Linked DNA regions of Homo sapiens: region 1 is reported to be linked to region 2. The links are microRNA targets in miRTarBase. Many come from high-throughput screens and were not tested one by one. Region 2 holds a microRNA gene; the other region holds the end of a gene's coding sequence.

Region 1 (3,000 bases), not on the chromosome of region 2:
CAAATCACCAATTCTTGGTTCAAAACTGACATCTGTTATGAAAATTACCATATCACATATTTGTAAGATGACAAGGAGTAACTCATCTTCAAAGTGCAAGTAAGTCTATTTACAACCACAAAAAAGGCAATGATGAGGAGAAAAGGATTTTTAAAAAATATACAAAGATTAAAAACATTTGGGATGCAAAATTAAACAATTTTTTGGTTAGAGGATAAAAGAGAAAAAGTGATTGAATTACAGATTTCAGCTATACATACTATATAATGGGATCCAAGATCTTTAACAGCTTGCTTGCATTTTTTTCTACCTACATAATGCTCTGGAAATTTCTGGTAGAAATTACAGTGTCTCAAAGAGAGAAATACACACTAAGCATGTCTTGCTACTACTTCATAGATGTCATAAGACCCGTTTATGGATTAGAGTTGGTGTAGAAAGCCATTGCCTTGAGTTGAAAAATGAATACTGTAAAAGCTCAATACAAATCCTCCAAAGCACATGCACTTCTAAATCTTTTGGTAATTACATTCATATTTAAGCATAACCAAAATAAAAAAGAAAACTGAAAACATTTCCCTTTTCTCTATTCCCTATGCCTTGTGGGCTCTCCAGTTGATAGGGTCAATTTTTAGAGTTGAAAGGGTTCTTCAAGATAGTCCACCACCCTTATTTAGGGTAAATGATTTTCCCAAGATCATGCAGCACATTAATGGCAAAACCAAGACTAGAAACCAGGTCTTGACTCCTAGTCTAATATGCTTTCCAGCATATCATGCTACCTCTTTTTTACAGTATGATTCACTATAAATACCTGATGAATAAATGTACAATTACAAATGCTGACAGAGCCAATGTGTTTCTAAGACCTGCAGAGGATTACTGCAAAGATTTGATGGTGAGAAAAAGATTTCCCCCACCCACCAAAAATATCAAGCACCATCAACTAAATGTTTCTTTGCTTGGTCAGCACTCTCAGTTATAGTAGCAGTCCTCGTAAACTTTATGTCAGCCTGAGGATTGTGTATCTGGTGAAATCTGGGCCCTAACACATGCCAGTTTCTAAAGGGTAAAGACAGAGGCAAAAAAGAGAAGAAGGTAGATGAAGGAAAGAAAAAGAGAGCTAAAGAATCCAATTGGCTTAGAGGTGGGCATTCTAGCATATGGTTAATTATTGCATCTAAATATATCATTTTAGAACCTTTTCATGTAATCTCATTTTACCTAATCTGTTATTTGGCCACTTAAGAATTAAAATAAATGTATCAAAGACAATGGTGGTCATTGTTGTTATGTTTTTTACCTGTGAGACTATTTTAGACAAACTAAATTCAATGAAGAGTATGTCAAATGGTAAAATTGTGTTAATTTTCTTAATCTGATTCTATTAGATTACCAGCAAGGAATTAAAGCGGTACTTCATGGGGCTGTTACCATCTTGAAATGTATTCCAATTGTGGTCAAAGAGAACAGACTGATGCACTGTATATGCAGAACTGAGTAAAGAAGCTGAAATGTCTTTTAAAAAAACATTGCCATGAATTTATTTAATAAAAGGGCATATTTATTTATGTTTACAAACAAGTTTCAAAAACAAAAGGAAAACATGTATGCTTCTACTTATTAACCTTTTTCAAAATGCCAACAGCCCTCATGCTGTGTGAAGGTCTCTAAAGATTAGAAAAATCAATACAGTTCACTCACAGTTCACCAAGACATCACTAAACTAACATGTTTAGACAAAAACAAAAAAGACTAAGGTTCTCTTGTAGTTTGATAGTCTGATTTAATTTGATTTGCCTGAAATAACAAAAGCATTTCAAGCATCTTTCATTATGTAGTTGATGTCCTGCATTAAACAATCTACTAAATTCTGAACAAAAGGTTATTAGCAAGTTTTCAAAAATTTTAAAAATTAAACAGTTGCTTCAAAACCATTAAGTAGTAAATGTATTTAAGAAACTAATTAGGACAGATGTCATAACTTCATTAGAACACCACTGCTCATGTTTTTTTGTTTTGTTTTGTTTTTTTCGTTTTTTTAAACAAAGCATTAGTGTTATCTATTTGGCTATTAGTATTAGCAATTTATCTACAATATTTAACAAGGTAAATTGTAGGCAAAAATTTAGTACAGTTTCAATAGAAACACCCCTTTTTTTTTTTTTCCTGAAAATACAGCAGTATTTGAAGGACTAATTTTTCTCTGCATCAGTTATAAGGAAGCTTCCCATCTATGAACAGGAACAAAAAAAGTATCTACAAACCTTGTAAACAGATCTGTATCATTTATAAACATAAATAATCCAAATTATTAACAGCCAACAGCAGAAATTAAACTATCAATTCAACGATCCAGGGCTCTTTGTCTTGCCCAGTTTTACTCCTCCCTCTCTCTCCCATCCAGGACTGAGATAAACTAAAGCTCTGCTAATACACTGTTCAGGACCATGCTTGGGTACTACTGATGATCCACAGGTCACTTACGCTGAGTTACTGTTTATCTGTCAGTTCATTTCTCCCACCCCCCAAAAAGCACCCTCAGTCTGGCAGAAAGCTTTGCTTTTTTTTTTTTAAAAAAATAAATCTACATTCGTACAAGTGTGTCTTCTGTTGAAGTCCAAAGACAAGAATACTAGCTTGTCCATCACAATATGTGAAAAGACCCAGTTTCAATTTGTTTCTTTACAATGCAGCTAGTGTGTTAACATTCAGCTTACAATCAGAGTGATGTTTCCAAACTATGTAGTGGGCTTCCTGGGGATGAAGAGGTAGCAGACTTGTTCATTTCTATTGTAAGGTGAATTCCACTGTCAACAGCATTGTTATTTTTGTTGGGAGAGGGTGGAGGACTGGAGTTACGTTTTGTAGGAGCATCATCTTCGGCATCAGTGTCATCAATAAGGGGGATATGAGGCTCTGAATCTTCTATCCTAAACTCAGGATGTGTCATAAAGTTGTGAATCGAACTTCTTGATTCCGGTTTTTCTAACCCTTCAT
Region 2 (3,200 bases):
CAGCGCGCCTTGTCCTCGCTTCTCTCCAGGTTGCACTGCATCTGGATGACCTGCAGCGGGGGAAGGCTGGGACTCACAAACCCAGCAGCAAGACCACATGCCGCGGCCCCAAAGGGGCCGGGAAGGGACAGCAAAGACTGGAAAGGGGGGAATCTCTAAGAGGAGCCCATCTCACTGCTAGTGGCTTGGCAAGCTAAGGAAAGCTTCGAGAAGAGTCGACATTAGGGGCTGGGTACTGAAGGCTGAATAGGAGCTTTCACCGCGGAGAGAACAACTTGAACAAAGAGGGAACTGTGGGCGTGGGGAAAGGGAGGTTGGGCGGGACAGGACCGCGCCGAAGTGCACGGTGCCTGCGGGATCAGGCCTCCCAGAGCCTGGGTGTCAGCTGAGGACTCCCATGATCTCTGCTGGCAGCCAGGAGCAGGCAGTTTGCCTGTTAGGACATGAATTCTGGCTGCACTGCACCGAGAGAGGCCCCTGGCCAGGAGGGGGTGCTGCAGGAAAAGTCTGGGGAGACACCAGGACATAGATGTCCGGGAATCAGCACCAGGTGGGGGATGGGAGGGGTGGGGGGGGTGGGAGGGGTGCGGGGGTGGGGGAAGATTGCTGGCAGGGTGGAAGAGCCCGGGTGAGTTCTGGAGGAAGGATGCTTGGAGTAGGTTCAGGGCAGGCAGCAGGATGCAGGGGAAGGATCTGAGGGGACAGGGAGCCTCCCGGAAAAGGAGAGTGCCCAGCCTGTCCTATAACCCCCATGACCCCCACAAGGGGGTCAGCCTGGATCTGGTCTCTGGCAGCCAGGAGGAGAGCTGGGCTGTGGGGATGCAGGCCCTAAGAGAAGGAGGGGCACCTCTTATCTGGCTGTTAGAAGGTCTGAGGGATGGCACTGAGCAGCAGGAGAGGGGACTCACCTTTCTGGTCTCAGAGTCAAAGGGCTCTGGCGTCGGGGTCTTGGCCTTTTGGACCTCCTCCGGGGGTGGGGCCAGCACACGGGGCAGCCCCAGGGGTCGAGTGGCTGCAAAGTTCATCAGTGGGTAGATTCCATTCCTGGGGACACAACAGGGTGGCTGGGGGTTCAGGCCTGACAGCTGCCTGGCCCCCAACCTTACATCAGTTCTCACCTGACATCCTCCAGGAATTTGTCCAGCTCCATGAAGGAGACTTCCGAGTACCTGGCATGGAAGTGGGAGGCACATGAGGGGCTGGCCGGGGCGAGGGGAGGGGAGGTGCGGGGAGGGGAGGTGTGGGGAGGGGAGGCTTCTGGGTGCTGACTGCTCACCGCCACTGCAGCGGGGGCCTGCGGGGCCGGGGAAGCTCCGCCAAGACCGCGTGCAGGTCCATGGCCTTGGTCTTCTCCTCCACCACATTCTCAGGCATGAGGTCTGCGGCCACAAGAGCATCAAGGCGGTGTGCTCAGGCCGTGGGTCCTGCAGGGCCCCTTCCACGTCCCAACCTCCACCTCCCCAGCCACCCCCCGGGCCGGCCTGCTGCTCACACTGGTGCTGGATGAAGCAGTGGGCTGCCAGGAGCTTCAGCGAGTGCACCTCGAAGAGCACGCGGTGGAAGAGGAGGCTGTGGGCAGAGGGCCGGCGGGCAGGGTCCCGGGCCAGGCAGCAAAGGATGAACTCCTGGGGCACAGGGAGGAGAGGCTGGTGGTGTGCAAGGGCTCTCTGCTCTGGCCCCGCAGTTCGAGGAGAGGTGGCCCCTGAGTTCCCCATGTCCCTCCTCAGGGACACACAGGACATGCAGGGATGCCCATAGGGAGGAGTCCCAGCAGCAGCAGCCAGGCCAGGACCTGGTCCTCTGAGCTTGAGGACAGCTGGGTTCTGGGATTGGAGCACCATGCTCTGCTTCCCTCGACCCCCAAAAAATCGTGGGGAGAAGCCATGATCCTAAAGTCACACCTGCAAGCCTCCTACCCATGGCCTTTTGATCGGCTCAGCTCGGGCCCAACACTGGAGACGACCTTGATGGGTCCCCACTCTGTCCACATCCGTGCCCAGCCCGGCTCCAGCTCGCCACCAGCCCCGACCAGGCACCCCCATCTCCTGAGGCCATGGAGTTAAGTCTAGACTCCGAGCAGAGGGGGCTGTGGATGCAGCTTCCATCCCATACCTCTTTTTGCCTGCTTGGCACCCACCATGTCCCCCCACAAGCTGGAGCCTCATCACCTCCTGGAAGCTTAAAGTCAAGGACTTGGAGTGAAGCAGACCCAGGTGCAGATGTTGGCTCCACCACTCACTCTAAAGCCTTGGGCAAAGGACTCATCTCCTCTGAACCTTGGTTTCTTTATAAAACGGGCATGGTGATGGCAGCCACAGAGGGAGGGTCTCTCTTGCCTTCTTGTCCTTAGAATGTGCTGACCCCTTAGGGCCTTCAGGCCTGGAACCAGTATGTGCTCCCACTGAGGTCCTCTTTGGGAGGGGTGCAGTCAGCTGGTATACCCCTCAACTGCACAAACTGTGATGTTCTCCCAGGTCTGCCTGGAGCACCTTGCTAGCCCTAGCTGAGCACGGTGAGCCAGCTGGGGAGGGGCAGGGCAAGCTGCTTACCCGCATGTTGGGGTCACTCAGCGAGTGCCTGGCGCGAGCAATGGCCTCCTCTGTGACCCGGGTGTCCCCATTGGTCTGGATTTCCAGTACAGCCATCTGGGGCACAGAGCCAGGTCAGGCATGGGGAAGGGACCACACAGGTGAGCCAGGCAGGGCACAGTTAGGAGGAGGGCAGAGCACAAGGTGGAGGGCGGGGGCAGTACCTCCAGCGCACACATCCCAAAGGAGAAGATGTCCACAGCGGTCCCATCGGCCACCTCTGAACAGAAGAGAGCACAGGACACGTAGGAGAGAAGCGCAGGGTAGGCACGGGGCACCCGGACCCAGCACCACTCACCTCCATACTCTGGGGGGAAGAAGTGCAGGTTCCGAAGTTCCTCTCGCTCAGCGCGGATGGGGCTTCGGAGATCATCTGGAAGTGCTGTGGGAGGGCGCAGAGCTGAGCGGGCGGGGACCTCTCCAGGACCCCGTCCCCCCAAAGTCCGCACTTACCATTGGAGAAGATTCGGTGCCACACTGCCAAGGGGCGGGAGAAAGAGTGGAGTTAGCTGCTGGGGCATCAGAACTCCTCTGCCCTTGGCTCCAGGCACCTTCCCCTGCCCCGTTCCCCCACCCAGCCCTGCCCCGCCAGCACCGGAGCCGATCTTGATG

The links. The annotated mature microRNA hsa-miR-6845-3p reads CCUCUCCUCCCUGUGCCCCAG and lies in region 2 at 1,626-1,646, opposite strand. An mRNA with a match to its seed (bases 2 to 7 or 8) in the 3' UTR can be bound and repressed. Matches are read on the target gene's strand: a 7mer-m8 pairs with bases 2 to 8, a 7mer-A1 pairs with bases 2 to 7 and ends in A, and an 8mer does both.
Region 1: the mRNA of ATP2B1 is a reported target of hsa-miR-6845-3p. Seed matches in the 3' UTR shown: 7mer-A1 at 2,394-2,400.

The regions. Positions count from the first base shown.
Region 1 is chr12:89,588,262-89,591,261 of GRCh38, forward strand. It overlaps ATP2B1 (ATPase plasma membrane Ca2+ transporting 1), which reads right to left. Exons shown (of 21, transcript NM_001366521.1): 21 at 1-3,000. The coding sequence ends at 2,723. Among named protein-coding and RNA genes, the nearest start is that of POC1B-GALNT4, 64 kb to the left of the region's middle.
Region 2 is chr8:143,836,131-143,839,330 of GRCh38, forward strand. It overlaps MIR6845 (microRNA 6845), which reads right to left and starts at 1,686; the gene lies at 1,626-1,686. NRBP2 (nuclear receptor binding protein 2) reads right to left here. Exons shown (of 18, transcript NM_178564.4): 6 at 3,184-3,200; 7 at 3,042-3,065; 8 at 2,887-2,970; 9 at 2,753-2,808; 10 at 2,550-2,645; 11 at 1,493-1,625; 12 at 1,277-1,379; 13 at 1,119-1,169; 14 at 909-1,044; 15 at 1-50. RefSeq lists an enhancer at 691-1,418.